Linked DNA regions of Homo sapiens. The protein of the gene in region 4 purifies or fractionates together with the protein of the main gene of each other region. This does not show direct contact. Each region holds a gene or a part of one and is shown on either strand. Other genes may lie near its edges. The genes, in order: SYNRG, HACE1, SPTAN1, NEK4, FAM83C, CORO1C and CPNE9.

Region 1 (4,255 bases), on a different chromosome or scaffold from region 4:
GGAAGGGAAGGAGTGAAATTAGTGAACAGGCAGTTACAGCAAAAGAAAAAACATAAAAATTGAATAGCTGGCTCTGGTGAAATGAGCAAGGACTTTAGAGTCAAACTGGCCTGGATTTGAATCCTGATCCTCATTGCTTGTAGCTGTATGATCTGGACAAATGACAGTAACTGTTTCTAACCTTGATTTTCTCATCTGTAAGATGCCAATTGTAACTCCTAAGGATACTGAGGATTTTTTAAAATGCGTGTACAGTTCCTGACCAGTGGTTTGTGCCTAATAACTTATTACAAATTATTACCCAGTAAAAACCTTGAGACAAGAGTGAAAACGTAAAGCTAATTAATCCATTACTTGTTAGCAAGCAAACTACGTGCTTGAGAAAATTACTCAACTTTCATGTTTTACTTCCAGACAGTAGTTTGATTAAAAGAAAAAAAAAAATCACAGCCCAGGCATGTGGCTCACACCCTGGCACTTGGAGGCCGAGGTGGGAGCATAGCTTGAGCCTAGCAGTTTGAAACTAGCCTGGGCAACATAGATCCTATCTCTACAAAAAAAAAAAAAAAAAAAAAAAAAAAAATTGGCCCGGTGTGGTGGTGCATGCCTGTGGTCCCAGCTACTCAGGAGGCTGAGGCGAGAGGATCGCTTGAGCCAGGGAGGCTGAGGCTGCTGTGAGCCATGATCATGCCACTGCACTCCAGCCTGGACAACAGAGCAAGACCCTGTCTCAAAAAAAAAAAAAATCAGTAAAAAATATGCCGAAATAGCTTCAGAGTAATTATGAATTGCCTTCCAAAAACCACTGTTTTGCACTTGCCTGCAAGAATAGGAAAAACAAAAGGACTGTAAGGTGGCAGGATGGCAGAACCAAACAAGAGTAGTACACCTTGGAGTTTTTTCGAAATATGGGTTGGGTTTTTGGGCTCTTGGTTGATTTAAAATAAAATTTAAATGCCTTCAGCGTCTGTGATAGGTGCCAACATGAAGCTACCGAGTTCCAGAGAAAGAGGGGAGAGCTGATCACTCATCAGTGCTGCGAGACTATCAAAGGGCCCTTCAGGACCTATCTGTTCTTTGTGTGTAAAGAGTAACAATAAAAGAACACCAGTGTACCCACCGTATAGTTTAAAAATCAGGACTCAGCCTACTCTTTCCACTAACCGCGATCATGGTTTTCAAACGGAGGACCAACGGCGCTTTGCCACTGGGCCGCCAGCTGGGCCCTGCAGAGGGCCTACCAGACAATGAATCAGCTCCCTTGGAGAGGCGCCCGCGACCGCCCCACCAGCCCGAGAGCTAGAATTGAATCTGGGGGACCCCTGCGGCGCCGGGTCACGTGCCGTGGGCGCGCCACGCCTCCCCGAGGGCCGGGGGAGTCACGTGGGCGCGAGGCCCCGCCCCATCGCCCGGTCCGCGGCGAGGTGGGGCCTGGTGTTTGACCCGGAAGTGGCTGTGTTCAGCTGACAGCTGCTGATAAGGTGGCGGCGGCGAAGGCAGCGGCAGGTCGGGAGCAAGATGGCGCTGCGGCCAGGAGCTGGTTCTGGTGGCGGCGGGGCCGCGGGAGCTGGCGCGGGGTCCGCCGGGGGAGGCGGGTAGGTGTGAAGAGCCGGGCGGGAGCCCGCTGGCCTCCGCGGGGGCGGCGAGGGGCGCTTGGCAGTTATGGCAGTTTTCTCCAGCCCTGATCCTTTTCCTTGGAACTGGGCTGCGGGAGGAGGGTCATCCCCCAGGGACCCAGGCCGAAAGGGGCGTGTGGAGCCCAGGTGCTGGACGCTGGTGTTCCGGGATCAGTTGGGGGCGCCGGCCGCCTGGAATCGAGCGGGGAGCGAGCGCGCGCCCAGTGTGGGAGGGGAGAGAAGATGAGGGTCCTCTTGGGGTGGGGGGGGGCGGGGCAAATCAGGAACCGCGACTCCGCTCCTAGTCCTAGCTGCCTCTGAAGCGACCAGGGTCTTCCCTTTCCTTGGGCTTTCTAGACTTAACCGGATATGTTGGAGGGAGGGCTTTAAAAATCTGTTCACAAAGCTGGAGGACTGTTTCCAAGGGGGGTGTGTGTGTGGACTATTTGTCTCTTCCCCTTTTAGAGTGTCCTGTCCTCTTTATTTCCTTAACCCGCGACAAACAGCAGGAACATCTAAAGACCTCTGAATTAGTAATGGTCTTGAGATAGAGTTCTTGTCTTGTACACTAACTCTTAAGACTTGTCTGTCTTCTTTTTAAAAAGGCATTTAAAAACAAAGAAAGTGCACTGTTAAACAGCAGTTGCGCATTTATTAGAACAAAGCTTCCAGACTCAGCCCTTAAACAAATCTGCCCTCTGCCACATTTCAGCCAAGAACTGCCGTGGTTCTTATACCCAGAATGGTAAGGGAGATGTACGTTTTACAAGCTGACAGATTCGTTATCATTTAAGGAAATATTTTATTCTAGGAAGTTTTCACTCCACTTCTATAATGACCTAGTCTGATTTTGTTTTACTAACCAACACACAACAGCACACACATTTGGAGGTAAAAGTAGCTTTGCATCTTCAGTATCCTAAATTGTCTTTGGAAAACGAAGTGTTAGGTTTTTTTTTTATATGCAGTGTTTCAATTTCGGAGTCGTGAACACTACAAAAGTGTAAGGACCTTAAAGTTATCACCTCTTGCAGGTGCTTGTCAGGAAACGAGCAGTGGCTGTTCAATAAACCACCTGTGTGTAACCCCATTTTTCATTTCCTCTGCACATCTTTAACTTTAGATTTTTAAACTTTTTGCTTTCTCTTTTGTTCTCTCCGTTGTTTCATTAGAGGGTTTTTTAAAAAATAAATACTTCGTGTAAGCCAGTTTCTGGCTGGAGAAGAAACATATGTAATAATTCCCTTCTATTTGTTTTTTCTTTTTCTTTTGTCTTGTTTTTTTTTTTTTTTTTTTTTTTTTGAGAGGAAGTCTTGCTCTGTTGCCCAGGCCAGAGTGCGGCGGCGTGATCTCGACCCGCTGCAACCTCTGCCTCCTGGGTCCAAGCGATTCTCTTGCCTCAGCCTCGGAGCAGCTGGGATTACAGGTGCGCGCCACCATGCCCGGCTAATTTTGTTGATTGATCGATTGAGACAGAGTCTCGTTCTGTCACCCAGGCTAGAGTGCAGTGGCACGATGTCGGCTCACTGCAACCTCGACCTCCCGGGTTCAAGCGATTCTTCTGCCTCAGCCTCCCAAGTAGCTGGGATTACAGGCGTGCGCCACCACGCCCAGCTAATTTCTGTATTTTTAGTAGAGACGGGGTTTCACCATGTTAGCCAGGCTGGTCTCAAACTCCTGGCCTCAAGTGATCCGCCCACCTTGGCCTCCCAAAGTTCTAGAATTACAGGCTTGAGTCACCACGCCCGGCATCCTCTATTTATTTCCTATATGTGATTACAGTTTCTAAAATGTCCCTGGATGGTATTAATTTGATCAAGTATATGATTAATCATGGCACCAAGTTCTGGGAAAATGTAAACTTAGAAGAATTGATATCTAGGCCCAAATTTTTATTTACTTAAAAAATGTTTTTGGATGGGGAGGACCTCAGGTTCAGAAATTCAAGTGCATTATTCCCTTTAGTTTGCAGTATTTGAGTATCATTGGTCCATGGACACAAATTTTTAAAATAAATATGGGTTGAATTTTGATAGAAATTAGAATGATTTTAAAATTTCCCCCCTTTGTAAATGTAGCAACATCTGCATTCTAAAACTGTAAACGATATACAGGAGAGAAAGAAGTGGTTAAAATGATTCTTACCTTGAAAAATGTATGGTACATATGTTACATATATTGGCAACTTTCTGAGGCTGAGAAGCTGTATCCTCAATAGAAAAAGGAATATTATTTTTTTTAGAGAGTAATGGTGTAAAGGCTGAAGTTATTTTATTTCCTTTTTAATTTTCTTTTTGCCACCCACCCTCCCTGAAATTATTTTATAAGGAAACTTAACATTATGGCAACCTAAGTATATTTGAAGAAAAAAAACAGGCAACTTCTCTACACCTTTAATGGAGAAAATCCATGAACTATAACTGACTGTATTGTTTAGATACTTCTCTATATTCTAAGAGGCTAAGCAAAACACAATAACGTTTTCCAAATTTAATATTACCCTACTTTTGATTGGTGTCCTGGATGAGCTACTTTAGAATAAATGGTAGAGTTGTATAAAGGGCAAAATTTGCCCAAGAGATGAGAAGTATAAATTTTTTTTTTCTTTAATCAAGGCAGAAAAAAAAAAGAGTTGAAAG
Region 2 (3,500 bases), on a different chromosome or scaffold from region 4:
TTCTGTAGGACATTTCACATTTATATTGCTGTCCAGTTTCTCCAACAGCTTGACTTTCTGTGCTACGGATAAAGACAAATGCTCCCTCTTTTCCCTGTCACTGTTACCCACAGGGGTATCTGCAGGCCTTTTTGACATTCCCAACAATACCTCTGCACCACAGAGCAGAAAATAAGCAAAAGAAAAGAAAAGACATGAGTAATGCACAAATGCACATCGGCCTTGGCCCCACGTGGGGCACAGTGGGGAACCTGCTCTTGGCATATGCGTCCTGCACATGTCATTTATTACCCTTGTGGGCATGCTTGCATGATGGAATCTTGGTGTGTTGAAGAAAAAATATATATGCAGCAGAAGGGGGCTGGGAGGGTCTTTTTTCCTTTGGGGATGCTGAAACAACTGTATGTTGTATGCTTGTGTTCTGAGTGCCCCCTGGTCATATGAGATCAGGTATGGGATTTACCACTTATGGCTTCATGTCAGTACTCGAAAAGTTTCAGACTCTGGGGTACTCTGAATTATGGATGCTCAACCTGTATACTTTTCTAAAGATGCATATAAAGAATCCACTTTAAGTCAATAATCTATGGATAAAAGTCTGTATTTTGTGCTTGTATGTGCATTAAATGTGTATGTTAAATAAATCATGCAAAGCTAGCACTAAAAATTTAATCATATAAGACTAGCAATAAAACCATATTAAAATGAAATCGTTAAAACATACTAAATTTGTATTTGCTACTTTGTTCACATTCACTGCCTTAGTAAATGAGAAGCCTAGCAGTTACACTGTCTTATAGACATCCATTTAAAATAAGAAAACATCAGTTACAAGTTTTGTGCCCTCGGGCAGTTATTTAACGTCTAAAGAAATGCAGTGTTGTAGTTACAAGCAGGCTCAAGTGCTTGTCTCAGCAGCACGTATACTAATATTGGAACCATACAGAGAAGACTGGATGGCCCCTGCACAAGCAGGCTTGAAATTTACAGACTGCATGGAGAAAGCTACTTAGCTCCTATATGCTTCTGTTTCCTCACCTGTAGAAAGGGGTATCTCCACCTCACAGAGTTAAGTATAATACCCATAAGGCACATCAAACAGTGCCTAGCACATTATAAAAACCTAATAAATGTCAAATGTTTTAATATTAAGGCTGTTTCCACACTAAATAAAGAGAAATAGCTATCTCAAGAGGCTGTTACAGGAAATGAGAAACATAAAGAACATGGTTCAGATACATGAAACACAAAGCACTCAATAAGTAGTAATTATTATCACTAAAAAACAGAATTAATGATAATGAGGTTGATGAAGAGTATGATGGCAACACTATCAGACATTAGGTGGCCCAATCCACAACAGTGGCAGTTATCCTTGAGTCCTTCCTCTTTCTCATCTTCCCAATTACCAAGTTCTATAAATTCTATTATCCTCAAAAGCTTAAAAGCTATTCCATTTTCTCCATCTTCACTGCCACTTGCCTTACATAATTCTTCATGCATGCTTCCCCAAACCAAAATGCCACAGCCTCCTCTCAGTTGTCCTGACTCTAGTACCGCCCCATTTCAACCCATTTTTCACACTCCAAGCTGAGTTTGGTTGTTTCTTTTTGTTTTCTTAACTGAAATTTGATCATGTCATTTCCCTCTTTAACATCTGCAATCATCTCCACAGACTTCAGAATAATTTTCAAAGTACTATTTGTGGATGCAAAGTCTTTCAGAATTTGGCCACTTTCTCCCTTCCCCACATCATCTTTTTCTACTTGCTTACTTTTCCATCTAAGCTAAGCTCCACAACTCTGATCTACTTGTGGTTTCCCAAAGCATGCTCTGTCACCTCTGTGCCTTCCTGTAAGCCCAGAACATTTCCTTCTTCCCATCCTTACTCCTACTCGACCACTTAATGCTTCACCTCTATAATTCAACTTCCATACCACTTCATCCATTCCCTGATACCTGCCCCATCTTACTCTTATCTTCTTTTTTTTCTCCAAGCCTGGATGAACTTTATGACTAATATTATAAAAGTGATGCTAACATTTAAACCCCTACAGCTTCAATTCTAAATGCTAGAACTGAAAATATGAGCAAAAGAGGCCATATCTAACTAATTTAAGAGTATTATATTTCAAATGTGGAACTAATATATATACATCTGCCTATATTGCTTGTATTTATTTAACATATTGCTTTTTAAATTAAAGGTATTTTCATCTATTTGGTTTCACTTTATAATCACCAAAGCCTTTTAATAAAACTTGGGAATAAGGGACTCCCCCATGTGGAGATCAGTTTACAAAGGCCCTCTAACAAGTTTAGCAAGTCATTTAAGTTTCAATAGTTCAAAATTATAAAGTCGAACTCTAAACATGACAAAAAAACTTTCTACCTATAAAGTAAAAAGCTGACTCTAAAGTAACAGAAAAGTTCATAACAGAATGTATAAGCAAAAAAAAAGAACAAACCAAAAATCAATAGTATTTCCAAGAAACAGGGTTTGAAAATTTTAAAGTAACATTTTGTAAACTGAATATCTTAACAATTTTAAGCAAGGTAAAATGTGATGTGTTTCTAAAGATTTTTAAGAGTTTTATATGAATCAGGTTATTTATTAAATAAGCATTATATGTTGAAACCTCAACAATTTGATACACAATTACTATACTGGTAACATTAGAAAAAAAAGGCTCAATTTATTGTGAGAAATGTTTATATAAAAAAAATGAAAGCTGAGAATGTATAACATTAATAATCAAGACCCTGCTATTAACACTCCTAATTACTTAAAAAAGTTAGCCTCTAATCAACCAAGCAATTAAACAAAATGTAAATATATATAGTATTAAACTGAGAAACAAAAGTTTCAAGCTCTTTAATATTAAAATAGTATTCCCACCTCTGGTGAGATGCACAATGAAGGGTATATCCTCAATGTGAGCATATTCTTACTTATTCTTATTTATTCAATATTTTCCATCTTTCTAGATTTCATTAAAATACACAAATACAAAAAAATTAATAATATTTTAAAAATCTAAACAAAAATCATGTCATAGTAAGGGGGGGTGCTGCTAGGAGATGCAAGCATAAATATAGATATACCTCATACACATTTTTTTTTCTTTTTTAAGTGATAGGATCTTGCTCTGTCACTCAGGCTAGAGGGCAGTAATGTCATCTTGGCTCACTGTAGCCTCAACCTCCAGAGCTCAAGTGATCCTCCCACCTCAGCCTCCAGAATAGCTAGGACTGTAGCCACACAAAACTAGGCCTGGCTAATTTTTTTATTTTTTATAGAGATGAGGTCTCACTATGTTGCCCAGGCTTGTCTCGAACTCCTGGCCTCAAGCAATCCCCCTGCCTTAGTCTCCCAAAGCACTGGAATACAATTGTTACTAGATCTTTCCACTTTGTCATATATATCTGAAAGGAGTGACAAACCTCACCAGATATAGTATTCACAGATAAGAATCATGTTTATGGTTCTCTTATCAAAG
Region 3 (3,500 bases), on a different chromosome or scaffold from region 4:
TAAACAAGACTTCACTCAGTCACCTTCCAGTTGTCTCCTCCAGCCGTATCTCATGTCAAGCTCCCTCACCAACACCAATTACAGGTCCTGGACAGGGTCCATTTGAAAGCTCAAAAAGTTCCCTTTCCCAGGAGTGCACTCTCCTCTCCCACTCCCAACCCTACCATCTAATATCATACAGATCTCGGCTGGGCGCGGTGGCTCACGCCTGTAATCCCAGCACTTTGGGAAGCCGAGGCAGGTGGATCACAAGGTCATGAGCTCCAGACCAGCCTGGCCAACATGGTGAAACCACATCTCTACTAAAAATACAAAAATTAGCCGGGTGTGGTGGCACGCGCCTGTAGCCCCAGCTACTCGGGAGGCTGAGGCAGAAGAATCGCTTGAACCTGAGAGGCGGAGGTTGTGATGAGCCCAGATCGCGTCACTGCACTCCAGCCTGTCAAAAAAATAAAAAATATAAAAAACAAATCATACAGATCTCTGAGTCCAAAGCAAATGCCTCGTCCTCTATGAAGTCTTTCTGAATCAGAAGTCTCCACTCCCTGACCACCCACCTCTATCATTCATCTTATAACACTGCCACATTCTGCCATGAAATTATTGTGTTCTCCCTACCACATTCATAAGTCCTTTAAGGAACTCTAAAGAAGACCATATTTTACTCTTACTCTCTGGGCACAGAACTCAGGACTTGGCACATATTATAGATCCAATTATATTCAGAGCTTGGAAATAAAGAAACTGCCATCGTTTTATAATTAAGTAGTTGGGAGACAGGTAATTTAGTAAGCAAGTTGCAAAGGCCAGGATGACCTGGGATCCTCCGGTTCCCAGAATATGGCACAATAGACACAGTGATTCTTAACATGATTAGAGTTGACATATTGACATATTCTTTTTTTTTTTTTTTTTTTTTTTTTTGAGACGGAGTCTCGCTCTGTTGCCCAGGCTGGAGTGCAGTGGTGCAATTTCGGCTCACTGCAAGCTCCGCCTCCCCGGTTCATGCCATTCTCCTGCCTCAGCCTCCCGACTAGCTGGGACTACAAGCATCCACCACCTCGCCCGGCTAATTTTTTGTATTTTTAGCAGAGATGGGGTTTCACCATATTAGCCAGGATGGTCTCGATCTCTTGACCTCGTGATCTGCCTGCCTCGGCCTCCAAAAGAGCTGGGATTACAGGCGTGAGCCACCGCGCCTGGCCTTTTTTTTTTTGAGATGGAGTCTTGCTCTGTCGCCAGGCTGGATTGCAGTGGTGCGATCTTGACTCACTGCAACCTCCGCCTCCAGGGTCAAGCAATTCTCCTGCCTCAGCCTCCCGAGTAGCTGGGACTACAATCACAAACCACCACGCCCAGCTAATTTTTGTATTTCTCTTCTTTTTAAGAGACAGGCTTTCACTATGTTGGCCAGGATGATCTTGATCTCGACCTTGTGGTCCGCCCGCCTCGGCCTCCCAAAGTGCTGGGATTACAGGCGTGAACCACCGTGCCTGGCCGACATATTATTTATTGATGGCTGTTTGGTTATTTATTAGTTCCTTTCACTTCTTTTTTTTTTTTTTTTTTTTGAGATGGGGTCTTGCTCTGTTGCCCAGGCTGGAGTGCAGTGATGCTATCTGGGTTCACAGCAACATCCGCCTCCCAGGTTCAAGTGACTCTCCTGCCTCAGCCTCCCCAGTAGCTGGGATTACAGGCACCCGCCACCACACGCGACTAATTTTTGTACTTTTGTAGAGATTGGGTTTCACCATATTGGCCAGACTGGTCTCGAACTGACCTCAGGTGATCCACCCACCTCAGCCTCCCAAAGTGCTGGGATTACAGACGTGAGCCACAGCACCCGGCCTTCACTCCCTCTTTATTAGTTCCTTTTCACATCTGCACTTTGGAGTGAAAAAACAGTGAGGCAGACACAGTGGCTCACACCTGTAATCCCAATACTTTGGGAGGCGAGGCGGGCAGATCACCTGAGGTCAGGAGTTTGAGAACAGCCTGGCCAACGTGATAAAATTCTGTCTCTACTAAAAATACCAAAATTAGCTGGGTGTGGTGGCACATGCCTGTAGTCCCATCTACTCAGGAGGCTGGGGCTGGAGAATCCCTTGAGCCTGGGAGGCGGAGTTTGCAGTGAGCTGAGATCAAGCCCCTGCACTCCAGCCTGGGTGACAGAGCTAGACTCCGTGTCAAAAAAAAAAAAAAAAGGCGGGCACGGTGGCTTACACCTGTAATCCTAGCATTTTGGAAGGCTGAAGGGGGTGGATTGCCTTAGCTCAGGAGTTCGAGACAAGCCTGGGCAACACGGTGGAACCTCGTCTCTATTAAAATACAAAAAATTAGCCAGGTGTGGCGGCGTGCGCCTGTAATCCCAGCTACTTGGGAGGCTGAGGCAGGAGAATTGCCAGAACCCGGGAGGCTGAGGTTGCAGTGAGCCAAGATCACGCCTTTGCACTCCAGCCTGGGCGACAGAGCGAGACTCTGTCTCTTAAAAAAAAAAAAAAAGGTGAGGTGGATGTGGATGTATTAATCATTTCTTAAAAATCAAAATTATCGGCCAGGCAGGGTGGCTCACACCTGTAATCCCAGCACTTTGGGAGGCCAAGGCGGGTGGATCACCTGAGGTCAGGAGTTTGAAACCAGCCTGGCCAACATGGTGAAACCCCATCTCTACTAACAATACAAAAAGTAGCCAAGCATAGTGGCGCACGCCTGTAGTCCCAGCTACCTGGGAGGCTGAGACAGGAGAATCGCTTGAACCCGGGAGGCAGAGGTTGCAGTGAGCCAAGATCGCACCACTGCACTCTAGCCTGGGCGACGAAAAAGCAAGAGTCCGTCTCAAAAAAAAAAAAAATCAAAATTATTTAAGATTGAGTCTTGGTAAACAATTAGGGTTAGACTTATTTATTTATATATTTCCTTTGTTCTCAACCCTCAGGAAACAGTTAAGATGGAAAAACATTGAGAAATTATGCATCTAATTTGTTTGCTTCCAAAATTTTCTTGTAAAGAAATTTTCCAAGGAAGGCATAGTTACACATGGAACAATAACGACACTGCACACGAGCTCCTGAAAGAGATGGCAGTCTCCAGGATTCGAGTGTATGGTGCTGTTCTGCCTCCTATCACAGGAGTCACTGCATTTCTAAAATCCTTTACCTGCTACAGAAATTAAATCACATTTGGGAACAGCCCTTTATGATAAGAAAATCTCCATCATAATATCGCAAAGGTTCCATCTGAGCAAGTCCCCCTGCTTGGGCCCAGCTTGCTGATTTGATCCTGCCAATCCAGAGAGACAGTTCAGCAAGGCCCTGCTGAAATTAACCAACCTAAAAGGCCCTCTTTGTCACCCCAGTGAAGTAGAACGAGTCAATTCTATACCAAGTGCTTTGGTCAGGCAATAATGGACTTTTCTTTCCTGCAGTAGATCAGCTGACGTCAGTAGGTGGGAGGTCTGCCAAGCCACAACAGGCTGTCTCTGGGGAGCTGGGTATCTGAAA
Region 4 (3,500 bases):
GGGAGACGGAGGCACGAGAATCATTGAACCCAGGAGGCAGAGGTTATAGTGAGCTGAGATCGTGCCACTGTACTCTAGCCTGGGTGACAGAGTGAGACTCAAACAAACAAAAAATACATATATGTGTGTGTATACACACACATGCACACACACACAGGCACACAAATACAAATACAGTATATTATTTGGCAATAAAAAGGAATGAGGCAGGGTCCAGTGACTCATGCCTATAATCCCAGTACGCTGGGAGGCCAAGTTGGGAGGACTGTCGAGCCCAGGAGTTTGAGACCAGCCTGGGCAACATGGCCATGGCAAGGCCCCATCTCTCTACAAGAAATAGAAATAAAAAAATTAGCAGGGCATGTCTGTGGTCCCAGCTACTCAGGAGGCTGAGGCAGGAGGATCACTTAAGCCCAGGAAGTCAAGGCTGCAGTGAGCTGTGTTTGCACCACTGCACGCTAGCCTGAGCAGCAGAGACCCTGTCTCAAAAAATTAAAAAATGAAATTTTTTTAAAAAAGGAATAAAATGTTGGTACATCCTACATCATAGATAAACCTTGAAAACATCAGGTTAAGTAAAAGAAGGCAGGCCAGGCCCAGTGGCTTATGTCTGTAATCTCAGCACTTTGGGAGGCCAAAGCAGGCTGATCACCTGAGGTCGGGAGTTCGAGACCAGCCTGACCAACATGAAGAAACCCCGTCTGTACTAAAAACACAAAAGTAGCCGGGCATCGGCCGAGTGCGGTGGCTCATGCCTGTAATCCCAGCACTTTGGGAGGCCAAGATGGGCAGATCACGAGGTCAGGAGATCGAGACCATCCTGACTAACACGGTGAAACCTCGTCTCTACTAAAAATACAAAAAAATTAGCCAGGTGTGGTGGTGGGTGCTTGTAGTCCCAGCTACTCGGGAGGCTGACGCAGGAAAATGGTGTGAACCCGGGAGGCGGAGGTTGCAGTGAGCCGAGATCACGCCACTGCACTCCAGCCTGGGCGACAGAGTGGGACTCTGTCTCAAAAAAAAAAAAAAAATTAGCTGGGCGTGGTGGCGCATGCCTGTAATCCCAGCTACTCAGGAGGCTGAGGCATAAGAACTGCTTGAACCCAGGAGGCAGAGGTTGCAGTGAGCCGAGATCGCGCCATTGCAATCCAGCCTGGGAAACAAGAGTGAAACTCTGTCTCAAAAAAAAAAAGAGAAAAAAAGAAGCCAAACACACAAAGCCATAAATTGTATGATTCCATTTATATGAAATCCTCAGAATAGGCAAATCCATAGAGACAAATGTTGCCACGAGTTGTGGGCAAGAGGGAATGGTGAGTGACTGTTATAGGGTACTGGGTTTCTTTTTGGTTTGATGCAAATATTCTTCTATGTTTAAACTGATACATAGAATTACTGATTTTCCTAAAATGACAACAGAACCCACATATTTGTAACTGCACTTTCAGTCTTCTCTCCAAAACCAGTATCTCATGTGTGCATATCACTCACCTGGTCCTTTGGCTTTTGTTCTTTGATTAGGGGCTGCAGAGGCTTCACTGGTTCATTCTTTTCCCCAGTGACAATGTCAGAGGACCACATGGGAATCAGGTTTTCAGGCTGGGCACTGGATTTAGTGTTGTCCTGCAGCATCTCCTCTTCCACTTGAGAAATACTGCATATACCTCCTAACTCATTAGAGGCATCCAAATATCTTGGCTGATTCTCCTGAACAAAGCCATCACTCACTGAATCCCTCCCTTTTGCAGGTAAGATGTCAATATTTACGCTACTGATTGTGGCTAGTTCTGTGGTATTGCTCAAGTCCTGTTTGCAGGTATGGGCTTTCAGACTGGCAGGTGACTTCAAGAGACCAGAGGCCCTGGGTTTCTCCTGGGACAAACATTTGCCTTCACCCTGAATGAAAAGATGTTTGGAAATTATTATAGCACTCCTCATATCTTATACAAAATCAACTCAAAATGCAACAAGAGGTTCCTCAAAAAGTTAAACATAGAATTAACATATGACTCAGCAATTCCACTCCTAAGTATGTAATCCAAGGAACTGAAAGCAGGGATTTAAGTTAAGTATTTGTACACCAATGTTTACAGCAGCTTTATTTAAAATAGTCAAAAGGCGGAAACAACCCAAAAGTCCATCAGCAGATGAAGGGATAAACAAAATGTGGTAAATACTGCCAGGCACGGTGGCTCACACCTGTAATCCCAGCAGTTTGGGAGGCCAAAGCAAGTGAACCACTTGAGGCCAGGAGCTTGAGACCAGCCTGGGCAACATGGTGAAATCCCATCTCTACTAAAAATACAAAAATTAGCCAGGTGTGGTGGTGCATGTCTGTAGTCCCAGTTACCTGGGAGGCTGATGCGGGAGGATTGCTTGAGCCTAGGAGGCGGAGGTTGTAGTGAGCCGAGAGCCCGCCACTGCACTCCAGCCTGGGCAACAGGAGTGAAACCCTGCCTCAAAAAAAAAAAAAAAAAATATATATATATATATACACACACACACACACACACAATGGAATATTTCTAATCTATAAAAAGGAATGAAGTTCTGATACATGCTAAAACACGAATGAACCCTGAAAACATGCTAAGTAAAATAAGCCAGGCCAAGTGTGGTGGCTCACACCTATCATCCCAGCACTTGAGCTCAGGAGTTTGAGACCAGCCTAGGCAACATGGCGAAACCCCATTTCTATAAAAAATACCAAAAAATTAGCTGGGCATGGTGGCAAGTGCCTGTAGTCCCAGCTACTTGGAAGCCTGAGTGGGAGGATTGCTTGAGCCGGGAGGTCAAGGCTGCAGTGAGCCGTGATCACACCACTGCACTCCAGCCTGGTTGACACAGTTGAGATCCTGTCTCAGAAAAGAAAAGAAGTAAGCCAGGACAGGGCAGGGAGCAAGCAGGGGCAGGACTGGCACTGTGGCCAGAGATGCCGCTGGGCCACAAAGGTGATAGGCAGCTGGGAACTCTACATTGAAGGCACAGAGGTGAGGCACAATGCCCGGAAGGCTGGTAAATTGAATGCTGAGGACGGAAGAGTCTGATGACATACTACTGAATTTCTTTGTTTGGAGTACACATTATGTACTCTTTCTGGAGCATGTCTACAAGCTCTACATGGAAACGATCTGAAGCTGAAAACATTGGCAGGGGATGCAAAAACCAGTCTTTGATGAACTATGCCAAAGAAACAGCTGCCTTCTATTCCCAAAAATGCTTTGCCCATAACTAAGCCTACGGAGCCTGTCCCAGCAGCACAGTCAACAAATGGCATGCATGCTTCCTACAGACTCGTCCACCTGAAATACTCTCTTCTTGCTGAATTTACCTTGGTTGCGGAGCAGACGTTATTAGGTGTCTATGTGCAGCCATCTTATCCCTCTGTATTAAAGTGGTTTGGACTAATATTCATAGGGCACAGACTTTATCAAGATGGCATATTTAGGCCAGGCGCGGTGGCTCACACCTATAATCCCAGCACTTTGAGAGTCCGAGGC
Region 5 (3,975 bases), on a different chromosome or scaffold from region 4:
GTCTCAATTAAAAAAGAAAAATGGCCAGGTGTGGCGGCTCACACCTGTAATCCCAGCACTTTGGGAGGCTGAGACAGGAGGATTGCTTGAGGCCAGGAGTTCAAGATCAGCCTGGGCAACATAGTGAGATCCCATCTCTAAAAAAATTTTAAAAGTAGCCGAGCATGGTAACATGCACCTGTAATCCCAGCTACTCAGGAGGCTGAGGTGGGAAGATCGCTCGAGTCCAGAGAAACTGAGGCACAGCTGTAGTGAGCTGTGATTGCGCCACTGCCCTCCAGACTGGGTGACAGAGCAAGACCCTATCTCAAAAAGAAAAAGAAAAAAGACAAGCTCCAGAAGCCTACGGACACCTTCTGGATGAGAATTTCCAGGAGGGTGGGGCCCGGGGATCTGCATTTCATCACCTCTCACCACCCCTGGGGTCAGGGTGAGAGCCACTGCTCTAGGTTCTTGAAGGACAGCTCCGAGCCGGGGTGGGAGAGAGCCAGGGGGCTGTGAGCACCACAGTTAAGATGATGGAGAGTGGCAGGACGATTATGGGAGCAAAAAGAGGGCTGGCTGGGGGACAGACCAGCGTTGATGTCCTTGGATATTCCATGTGACAGTCGTTCAGCTCTCAGGGCCTTGCAGACTTGAGCCAGGGCACGTGCTATCCACTGTGGTATGTGTTGTGGGGGTCATGGCCGGTCTCTACATCGGCGTTTGGGTGAAGAGTTTATGCAAGTGGATGTGATTACAATGTGTGGTCGGTCTGTGTCAGCCCACACTCCATGTCTGTGTATCGGTCAGTTGTCAGTGTGTCCATCTGCATGGGTGTTCATGTCTTTTCCTGGGTGTCTTGAGTCGCTCACCCACCTGCAGTGTGTGTGCGTGTGCGTGTGAGTGTGTGTTCCTGAGTCGCCTGGGCCCCTCTTGGCTGTAATTCAACCTCTGTGGGTCCCGGGAAGTCAGCATTTGGAGACTTGCTGGGAGCCTGGTGGGGATGGGGCGGCGTTGCTGGGAGGAAGAGAGGGAGGCAGGAGTGTGCACCGAGGGCCTGGCACTGCCGCTTCCCTGGGCAGGCGAGTCCCAACACAGGCAGACAGGTGGGGCTGACCTGACAGGTTCCAGAGGCCAGGGGCAATAGGGTGGAGCGTGGCTCTGATTTAGGGTGGCAACAGTTTGGGGGCCCTGCCACACACACAGCGAGCGGGCGGGCAGAAGGCGGTTCTGCTGGTCTCCTCTTCCTGCTGCAGCCAGCCCAGCGTGCGGGCCATGGGCCCTGCCGGCGGGTGAGGCAGCCGCGTGGCAGGCATGTTCGGAGGCCCGGGGCCTGGGGTCCTGGGAGCCCAGGGCATGGCGGGACCCCTGCGGGGCCGGGTGGAAGAGCTGAAGCTGCCGTGGTGGCGGGAGAGCTCACCGCTGGTGCTGCGGCACAGCGAGGCGGCTCGGCTGGCGGCCGACGCCCTCCTGGAGCGGGGTGAGGCTGCCTACCTGCGGGTCATCTCCGAGGAGCGGGAGCTGCCCTTCCTGAGCGCCCTGGATGTGGACTACATGACCAGCCATGTGCGCGGGGGCCCTGAGCTCAGCGAGGCTCAGGGGCAGGAGGCCTCCGGGCCAGACCGCCTCAGCCTGCTCTCTGAAGTCACCTCAGGGACTTACTTCCCCATGGCCTCTGACATAGACCCCCCAGACCTGGACCTGGGCTGGCCCGAGGTGCCACAGGCCACAGGCTTCAGCCCCACCCAGGCTGTGGTCCACTTCCAGAGGGACAAGGCCAAGAACATCAAGGACCTGCTGCGCTTCCTTTTCAGCCAGGCCCACACGGTAAGGGCCTCATCTCTCCATCACTCATCTCACAGAGGAGGAAACTGAGGTCCAGAGAGGGAAGGGACCAGCCCAAGGCCACACAGCGACTTAGGGGCAGAATGAGGACCAGCACCTCTGGCACTATTAGATTGCAAACTCCTAGAAGGGGGACATCCCATATTTACCTTGGCAACTGCTTGGTACCCAGGAATAGTATGGATGAGCATAGAACAGGGCATGGGTGTCAGGGACTCCACAATCCCCTGAAATGCACACGAAGTGGTGCAGGTTGGAGGGAGGAGTCCTCGCTGCATCTTTACCTTGGAAGATGCTCCACTGCCTTAAATCAGATTCTCAAAAAGTTTTATGATCCCCACACTAAGAACTCCAACCTTGGGGAACATCTGAGTCACCTCCTTCACTTATAGAAGAAGAAACTGAGGCCAGAGAGGGGCTTGGGACTTGCCCAGGGAGGTCCATATGGTGACATAGAGCTCAGGGCTTGGGGAGACAGGGGCTCTCTGACTTGGGTCCTGGGGACCAGTCCGGCCCTCCTTGCTGGCTCAGGTCCCTAGTTGCCCCCTACCCTCCTGCACCACATCTGCAGCTGGGCCTGAAGCAGGGGAAGGGGCCAGCGTGTGGGCCTCTTTGGCGTGGCCTTGAGGGCTGGGCTTTGGAACCAAGGAGGAAGGAGGAGAGGAGGCTGCTGGGCTCAGTGATGGGGAGCGGGAGCTCAGGAGAAAGAGAATTGGGAGGGCAGGTAGGGGTGGTCAGCACCCAGAAAGGCTCTGGCCACACACGAGCACAGCTTCCCTTCTGAAGCCCTGGCCTCCGACTCCAGGGGAATGGACGAGATGATCCCTGGCAGGGTTTGAGGGAGAGTTAGGCTCCTGCTGCAGAGATGGGAAGCCAGGATGCTGGGATCCCACCGGTACTTCCAGAGCCTCCCTGGCAAGCCTTCCTGTGCCCCAGGCAGGGGACGGCCAGGCCTGATTGGCATCAGGAATGGGGTTATTAGTGAGGCTGCTGCTGTCGTCCTCCTCACCCCTGCCTCTTTGATCTTCCTGCCTGTCCTTGTTCCCCCACCCTGGCCAGGCCTGTGCTGTGAACTAGGGCATCCCCCAGTGCCTCGCCTTCTCAGCCCCCATTTAGACCCCTCTATCCTGGGTCAGGAGCCAGGTTCGTGCACTGGGCTGTCATGACTCCTAGTGACCTTGGGAAATGCTGCGTTGCCCTGCAGCCCAATGTTTATAGAGCTCTGTTATGTCTTGAGCATTTTCACATTTAATTCCCTGTAACTCTGAGACATGGCTATCATTATCTCCATTTAACAGATGAGGAAGGTGAGGCTTCCAGAGGTGAAGGGACTCACCCAAAGCTGTGTCACCAGGAAGTGATAGAGTCCAGGTTTGAACCCAGTTCTTTCTGACTCCAGAGCTGGAGTGCTATGCTCTGTACCTCCTGCCTCTCGGCCCTGCCTGGGAGAGAAGACTCTCATAGCAGATATATGCCATGGGAAGAAAGGCCAGCTGGGGGCTGGGAGGTGCCAAGAAGGTTTCAGGGGCCTCTTTGAGGCAGCCCTTTATATGGGATGGAGGCACAAGCCCCAGCCCAGCCCTCAACTGAGCAGAAAACTTGGATCCATTTGGCATGGGTGCAAGTAAGGGAGTCTGCAGTGTAAGGGGTCACACCAGACCTCTGTGGCTTCACAGGGAAACTGAGGCAGGACTGGGAAAGGGCAGCGAAGACCCCAGTAAGTGGCTTGTAGCTGTGACCCTGGAGAAGGGAGCCTCAGACAGACAGTCCCTGGGTCAGAGCTGGGCTGGAGTTAGTCGGGGGAGTGCCAGGAACTTGCCTGGGAATTGGGGTCTGGGTTCTCCTTCTCACTGCTGTCCCATCTGGGGCTCAGTGCAGAGGGAGTGTTGGACTAGCACAGCTGATCCACAGTCATCTTTGAGAATCTGATGATGGATAAACACTCGGTGCACAGAAGGATGCACACAAATGCTTTCAAACAGCTAGGGGTTCAAGACAGTCAAATCTGGGCTGGGATTTGACTGTAATCCCAGTGCTTTGGGAGGCTGAGGTGGGAGGATCGCTTGAGGCCAGGGGTTCAAGACCAGCTTGTGAGAACCCCATCTCTACAAAAAATTAGAATTAAAAAAAAACTAGCGACTGGGCGTG
Region 6 (3,500 bases), on a different chromosome or scaffold from region 4:
AGCTCAGCGGTCCTCCCCTTGTCTTCCACTCTTGTGGCTCTCTGAGTGGGGGGAAGCAAATGTGTTTTGGTTGTGTGCTATATGGTTTTAAAGCAGATTATTAGGAAACCATGGTGAAGAGTATTGGGGTGCACTGCTCCCCCAGCCCACATACATACTTGTGTGTGTGTGCACGTGTGTGTGTTTCAAGGCCATTTCGACAACCTGAGGAAAGCTATGAATTTCCTGCTATAATTTCAGCAGGTTTCATGGTTCCTGCCAGGGCCCTCCATGAACCATAGTTTTGGTTATTTCTGATATGGTAGAAGGTGTACTTTGTTGGGAGCCAGAAGCCCTGTGTTCCCTCTGTGGTGTTGCTGCCAGCTTTGGGAGACCCCTATTAGGCAAATACACTCCTTCCTTTTAAAGAAAACTTTGATTTTCCCCTGCTATACAATTAGTACATGTATACTGTAGAGAACATATATAAACAAAAGGAAAAAAAAATCACTTTTAATCCCACCACTCAGAGAGAAGATCATTATTACTTTTTTGATGTTTCTTTCCGAAAGATATTTCTGTGCACATACATAAATTATTTTACATACAGAGATGGGTTCATACACTTTACACATGGGCTGCTTTCTGCACTTGGTGGTAGGCTGTGACCCTTTTCACGTGCCATTAAGCTCTCTTCCTATTTTTAATGACTTCATACTAATCCATTTTCTGGATATACCTCATTTTACTTGATAAGTCCCCTATTTCTGGACACTGGTGTTGTACAGAAATCTTTTCCTTTATCTAAAATTGGAGATTTCATTTTCTTTTATGAAAGCAATACAGAGAGCATGAGGGAACTTTGTGGGGTGATGGAAATATTCTGTATCTTGATCATAGTAGTGGCTACATGAGTTTATACATTTGTTGAAACTTAGCAAATATATACTTAAAATGGGTGCATTGTATTGTATGTAAGTTATACCTTAATAAAAGTGGTTTATTTAAAAAGTGATACTAATGTTAGAGATAGGATTTTTAAAGGTCTTTCCCCTCACCAGTAAAAAGGAGGAGGGGCAGTTCAGTTTTTAACTGGGAATACACAATGTTTATGACTCATAGTGAGTTAAATAAAAAATTATAATGCCAAGTAACTATTGAAACTAAGGCCCACTTTTCAAAAAAGATGCCATGTTTTTTATAATCACCATCGACTATACTTGGGAATCATTTTTGATGTTCTCTCAGAACCTCAGTCTGATTAAGGAGAGGAAAAAAATTCCAGAGCTGGAATTCCTTCATGGAAAATTCCCTGCTACCTTTCTCATCAAGGCTCAATACAGGGCAGCAGCAACAGACTGGTCTGCATTCTCCCTTTTACATGTGAAGGAGAATGGGTGATTGTCGTGTTCTGCATATTTTTAGGCTATATGATCCAGCTGCCGGGGCTGAAGTTACCTGTTTGCCTATAGGGAAGAAGGCAGAGGAAGGTTCAATTGTCCATCCCAGAGTTTAGCTTCAACTTTTGTTACTGTTGTGTAGTTTTTTTCTCCAGTTTCCTACTTCTTTTTTTTTTTTTTTTTTTTTTGAGATGGAGTTTCGCTCTTGTTGCTCAGGCTGGAGTGCAATGGCATGATCTCAGCTCACCGCAACCTCCGCCTCCTGAGTTCAAGCGATTCTCCTGCCTCAGCCTCCCAAGTAGCTGGGACTACAGGCATGTGCCACCACACCTGGCTAATGTTGTATTTTTAGTAGAGACAGGGTTTCTCCATGTTGGTCAGGCTGGTCTCCAACTCCTGACCTCAGGTGATCTGCCCGCCTCGGCCTCCCAGGGTGCTGGGATTACAGGCGTGAGCCACCGTGCCCGGCCAGTTTCCTACTTCTAACCCTTAGGTAACTTAAGTATCCTGGATGTTAGTGACTATTTTTTCTAAATGATTTCCAAATTGCTTTGTTGGCAAGAATCCACCTCTAGGATGTCCTTCCCGTATTTTGCTTCATCCTTGAACTAACATCCTAGGAGCAACACATGCTGCCTCTTTTTAAAGGGGCCTGGAGGCGTGGGGCAGACCCTTGAAGGAAGGAAGGAGTTGGTGAGCTGAGATGGTGAATGAGTTGACATTGTGGGCTTCTTTCAGAATCCGTTTCTGAATCTATGTAGCTACTTGATTACAGTTTGGGCTTCTCACCATGATCAGAGCAGTCTTGGCCTATTTTTCTCTTCATTTAAAGGTACAGATCTGTTGTGAGCAAACAGGCCTTACTCTTGGCTTTTCCCTTCCACTGTTGTACCATCTTTAATATCCCAAAGCTGTGTCTTAGAGTCTCACTGATTTGAATAACCTGCCACCCAGAGTTTTTGTTGAGTGCCCTAAACAGTCATTTAAACCTTTTACTTTTAGTTTATTTGGCACGTGAAAAGGGTCACAGCCTACCACCAAGTGCAGAAAGCAGCCCATGTGTAAAGTGTATGAACCCATCTCTGTATGTAAAATAATTTATGTATGTGCACAGAAATATCTTTCGGAAAGAAACATCAAAAAAGTAATAATGATCTTCTCTCTGAGTGGTGGGATTAAAAGTGATTTTTTTTCCTTTTGTTTATATATGTTCTCTATAGTATACATGTACTAATTGTATAGCAGGGGAAAATCAAAGTTTTCTTTAAAAGGAAGGAGCGTATTTGCCTAATAGGGGTCTCCCAAAGCTGGCAGCAACACCCTGATGCTTGTTTTACTAGAAAGGGAAACTTGAAGTCACTTGGGTCTACCAGCCCAGTTAACTCTTTAAAGAAAATAGGGTTCTGTTTTGGTGTGGTTCTTTGTTTTTGTTTGGTTGATTGTTTCATATGAACCCAAACTTAACAAGTTGTGTTTTTACTTTAACACTTTTATTTCTTTTATACAAACTTTTTCCTTTGTCACTTCAGTTTTTAACGCTGTTAGTAAGTAGGGCCTCTGGTAGGGCCTCTGACAATCAGCCGCATCTTTTCTCTCTCTCTCTTTCTCTCTCTCTCTCTCTGCATATACATATGTGTATTCTCACTGTATCTGTAGTTTTCTGAGTGTGTTACATAGGTGTTTCTAATCTTCTAATCTCTGATGGTTTTGCCTGTTTTAGGCTGTGATAATGCCATTATCATCTGGAATGTGGGAACAGGGGAAGCCCTTATAAACTTGGACGATATGCATTCAGACATGATTTACAATGTGAGCTGGAACCGGAATGGCAGTCTGATCTGCACAGCTTCCAAAGACAAGAAAGTGAGAGTCATTGATCCCAGGAAACAAGAGATTGTTGCTGTGAGTATTCCTAGGATGAAAACTCAGTAGTTGGAGCACTTGAGTGAGTGTGAGCTTTCTGCTTTTTAAGGCAGGCAGCGGTACTGGTCAGTGGGACCCTGTTGTGTGTAGACACCAACTGTGAATAAGAGAAGGCTTATAAAGGCTTCTGTCTCCCCAGTTGTGCTTCTCTCCAGAGTTGTAAATTTTCCAGCTTTTACTCAAGTCTCTCACTTTGTA
Region 7 (3,500 bases), about 43 Mb from region 4:
CACACTCAATGGTGCATTGCCCCTTTACTGAATGTTTACTAAATGAATGAATAAATTTTGAATTAGTGTAGTTGCATAAGATAATATTTAAGAAGTCAGCTTAATAACAACAAAAACATGCTCAGGTTCCAGTATTAGTGAAAAAAAAATCAGTAGTGAAATGTTATATGTATAATAATTTGACTATAATTATGGATACATAAGGAAAAGAACTGTATATACATCCACATTCCATGGGCAGTATTCAGGGTGATTTCTTCATTTCTCTATTGAAACTTTCTACGGTTATGATTAAAGAATCTATTATCATTACTGCAAATTAGAAAATAAATCTACTAGAATTAATACCTGAGTGATGAAATAATCTGTACAACAAACCCCCATGTGTCACATGTCTCAAGTTTGTTATGTAACAAACCTGCACATGTACCCCTGAACTTAAAAGGAAAGTTAAAAAAAAAACAAATCTTCGCTAGGGGAAAAAGTCTATGGACATATAAATCTCACTGAAATCCTTTCACTTTTATTCCCTTTTTGTTTAATCTTTTTACTTCTGAGCTTTCTGAGGGGCTTTGTGTTAGCTGGGTTTCTTCTGTTTACTATAAAGTGGGGTTTGCTTATTTTTTGTTCAATCAAATAATCTTTTTCTTTTTTAAGGTCAAACAGAGCTTATTTATGTTTATTGACATATGTTTGATTTTAGTTCTGTCATTTCATAAATTCGTTTTAAGTTTATTTTAATACCCTCTGGTTTTTTAAGCCATTTGATGTATGATCTGGGTTTTCTTTGGTTTGTGTGTGTGTGTGCATATATATATATATGTATATATATATATTTTTTTGAGACAGAGTCTTGCTCTGTCGCCCAGGTTGGAGTGCAGTGGTGTGATCTCGGCTCACTGCACCCTCTGCCTCCCAGGTTCAAGCAATTCTCTGCCTCAGCCTCCCAAGTAGCTGGGATTACAGGTGCCCACCACCACGCCTGGCTAATTTTTGTATTTTCAGTAGAGACGGGGTTTCACCATCTTGGCCAGGCTGGTCTTGAACTCCTGACCTCATGATTCACCCACCTCGGCCTCCCAAAGTGCTGGGATTACAGGTGTGAGCCACCACACCTGGCCTGCTTTGTATAGTTTTATTCTGAAAATTTGGACAGTCACTCATCTAGTTTTTAACTTATCATTTATGGAGCATGTACCATGGGCCAGACACTGTGCTAATACTTGTTACACTATTATCTAATTTTAACCTTGCAATAACTCTATAAGGAAGCTGCTATTGTCATCCATTATGACACCACCTTACAGGGATGAAATGGATGCTTAAAGAGGCGAAGTTGCTTAAGGTCAGATGGTTAGTGAATGGTGGAGGAAGGATCCCACTCAGATCTGATGCTAAAACGTACGCCTTCACCACAGTGCTGTAGGCTCTTCTCTCTCTTACCCAAACTCAAGCCCCAGCTTGTCATTCTCAGGCAGTGGGGTTAGGGTAATTTGCTGACACCCTTTGTGCCGCATAATAAGGTACAGTCATCCCTCAGTATCCACGGGGGATTGGTTCCAAGACTCCTGTGGATACCAAACTCCTCAGATATTCAAGTCCGTCATATAAAATGGTGTAGTATTTGCATATAACCTATACACATCGTCCTGTATACTTTAATTTTTTTAATTTAAATATTTAATTTAAAAAAATGAGCCAGGCATGGTGGCATATGCTTGTAATCCCAGCACTTTGGGAGGCTGAGGCAGGTGGATCACTTGAGGTTGGGAGTTCAAGACCAGCCTGGCCAACATGGTGAAACCCCGTCTCTACTAAAAACACAAAAACGAGCCAAGTGTGGTGGCATGCGCCAGTAATCCCTGCTATTTGGGAGGCTGAGGCAGGAGAATTGCTTGAATCTGGGAGGCGGAGGTTGCAGTGAGCCGAGACCATGCCACTGCACTCCAGCATGGCAACAGAGCAAGACTCTGTCTCAAAAAAAAAAAAAAAAAAAAAGAGATGGGGTCTCACTAAATTGCCTAAGTTGGTCTTGAACTCCTAGGCTCAAGTGATCCTCCTGCCTCAGTCTCCCAAAGTGTTGGGATTACAGGTATGAGCCACCATGCCTGGCCTCTCCTGTTTACTTCAAATCATCCTAAATTACTTAGAGTGCTCCTGACTATCCTTGGGGGGTCAATCCCTTATGTGGGTCCCCTCATTTCCCCCAGCTTCCACCCAGTTCCCTTACCTGGCCACTTGGTTGATGACAGGAGCAAAGTAGGTGGGCCCATAGAGCTGCACTGTGCGCAGGCTCTGGAAATAGCTCTCCAGCACACCCTCGATGCCCGCACAGTTGGGGTCCTCATCATTGTTGTTCTGTCAAAGAATATGCCCTGCCAGGCTGAGCCCATGCAGGGTACATGCAGGAGTGCTCTGATTCCAGCTCACTCCTTCCTTTTTCCATCAGTCCCTTTCATGCTCCCCTCCAAACCCAGCCCTGCTCCCCTCCCTGCTCTGCTATCCTCTCATAGCTTCCTGTTCCTCTACATGCCCTTTGAAGTAATGTAAACAGAACAAAATCATCAACTTGGGTGAACCAGATGCCAGGGCACGGAGGGTAAGCTCTGGCCAATACCATACCAGGGGGAACTGGTGGGAGATCCGTCCCTCTGGGGGCAGCTTGGCCCCAAAGCCATAAGCTGGGAAGAGCTTATCACTGTCATAGTCCTGGATGATCTCTCCCACTGCCTTGAGGGCCATGGCATAGGCGCTGAGCTGGTAGGGACTCATGTAGTGCAGGGAGGTAGGCTGCAGAGGATTCCCTGTAGGGACACAGGAACCCCAGCCTCATGATCATCTGGATCATCCATCTGTTCACCTGCTTATCTTTGTGTGCATTCATCCACCTATATCCATTTATCTGCCCTCTACCCATGTCCTCCCTCCTTATTTTACCCAATCATCCATTTGTTCATTTATCCATCTATCCACCCACCCATCCCTATATCTATTCATCCATTTACCTACCTACCCACACATCCATCCACCCATCTACCTAGCCATACATCTATCTTTCAGTCTACTTATACATCTTTATCCACCAATCTCTCCATTCTCTTATGCAGCTATCCACTTACCCACTCATCCATCCATCAGTCCATCCATCCATCCATCCATCCACCCACTTGTCTACTTGCCATTTTTCTTCATTTTCCACCCATCTATACAACAGTATTATTTTATCCATCCGGCTAGCCAGCCCTCTCCATTCCATTCATTCCCTTGTCTATTCTCATATGGATCTATCCACTCATGCATTTCCCCTAATTACTTGTTATTTCCCCAACTTAAACTTTAGTCCATTTGTCCACCCACATACCCATCGATGCATCTACTTGTCTAACCTATTATACTCACCAACCCATGTACCCACTCCATTTGTTCATGGATCTATGCATCCATTCATGACTCACCACCTGTTCACCTCTCCATCTCTCCTTATACCCCCTTTCTCTCTC

Evidence for each region.
Region 1: the proteins of NEK4 (region 4) and SYNRG purify together in Homo sapiens (affinity purification with mass spectrometry; one large-scale study listed by BioGRID and IntAct). This does not show direct contact.
Region 2: the proteins of NEK4 (region 4) and HACE1 purify together in Homo sapiens (affinity purification with mass spectrometry; one large-scale study listed by BioGRID and IntAct). This does not show direct contact.
Region 3: the proteins of NEK4 (region 4) and SPTAN1 purify together in Homo sapiens (affinity purification with mass spectrometry; one large-scale study listed by BioGRID and IntAct). This does not show direct contact.
Region 5: the proteins of NEK4 (region 4) and FAM83C purify together in Homo sapiens (affinity purification with mass spectrometry; one large-scale study listed by BioGRID and IntAct). This does not show direct contact.
Region 6: the proteins of NEK4 (region 4) and CORO1C purify together in Homo sapiens (affinity purification with mass spectrometry; one large-scale study listed by BioGRID and IntAct). This does not show direct contact.
Region 7: the proteins of NEK4 (region 4) and CPNE9 purify together in Homo sapiens (affinity purification with mass spectrometry; one large-scale study listed by BioGRID and IntAct). This does not show direct contact.

The regions. Positions count from the first base shown.
Region 1 is NC_000017.11:37,606,619-37,610,873, reverse strand, and holds the start of SYNRG (synergin gamma), read left to right. Parts: upstream 1-1,455; 5' UTR 1,456-1,518; coding exon 1,519-1,595; intron 1,596-4,255. UniProt on the Homo sapiens protein: Plays a role in endocytosis and/or membrane trafficking at the trans-Golgi network (TGN). May act by linking the adapter protein complex AP-1 to other proteins. Component of clathrin-coated vesicles.
Region 2 is NC_000006.12:104,765,920-104,769,419, forward strand, and holds part of HACE1 (E3 ubiquitin-protein ligase HACE1), read right to left. Parts: intron 1-3,500. UniProt on the Homo sapiens protein: E3 ubiquitin-protein ligase involved in Golgi membrane fusion and regulation of small GTPases. Acts as a regulator of Golgi membrane dynamics during the cell cycle: recruited to Golgi membrane by Rab proteins and regulates postmitotic Golgi membrane fusion.
Region 3 is NC_000009.12:128,559,087-128,562,586, reverse strand, and holds part of SPTAN1 (spectrin alpha chain, non-erythrocytic 1), read right to left. Parts: intron 1-3,500. UniProt on the Homo sapiens protein: Fodrin, which seems to be involved in secretion, interacts with calmodulin in a calcium-dependent manner and is thus candidate for the calcium-dependent movement of the cytoskeleton at the membrane.
Region 4 is NC_000003.12:52,750,441-52,753,940, forward strand, and holds part of NEK4 (serine/threonine-protein kinase Nek4), read right to left. Parts: intron 3,459-3,500; exon of another isoform or gene 3,086-3,458; intron 1,897-3,085; coding exon 1,492-1,896; intron 1-1,491. UniProt on the Homo sapiens protein: Protein kinase that seems to act exclusively upon threonine residues. Required for normal entry into proliferative arrest after a limited number of cell divisions, also called replicative senescence.
Region 5 is NC_000020.11:35,289,626-35,293,600, reverse strand, and holds the start of FAM83C (protein FAM83C), read left to right. Parts: upstream 1-1,175; 5' UTR 1,176-1,296; coding exon 1,297-1,809; intron 1,810-2,962; exon of another isoform or gene 2,963-3,198; intron 3,199-3,975. UniProt on the Homo sapiens protein: May play a role in MAPK signaling.
Region 6 is NC_000012.12:108,658,519-108,662,018, reverse strand, and holds part of CORO1C (coronin-1C), read left to right. Parts: intron 1-3,099; coding exon 3,100-3,281; intron 3,282-3,500. UniProt on the Homo sapiens protein: Plays a role in directed cell migration by regulating the activation and subcellular location of RAC1. Increases the presence of activated RAC1 at the leading edge of migrating cells.
Region 7 is NC_000003.12:9,717,333-9,720,832, reverse strand, and holds part of CPNE9 (copine-9), read right to left. Parts: intron 2,805-3,500; coding exon 2,623-2,804; intron 2,384-2,622; coding exon of another isoform or gene 2,359-2,383; coding exon 2,231-2,358; intron 1-2,230. UniProt on the Homo sapiens protein: Probable calcium-dependent phospholipid-binding protein that may play a role in calcium-mediated intracellular processes. Plays a role in dendrite formation by melanocytes.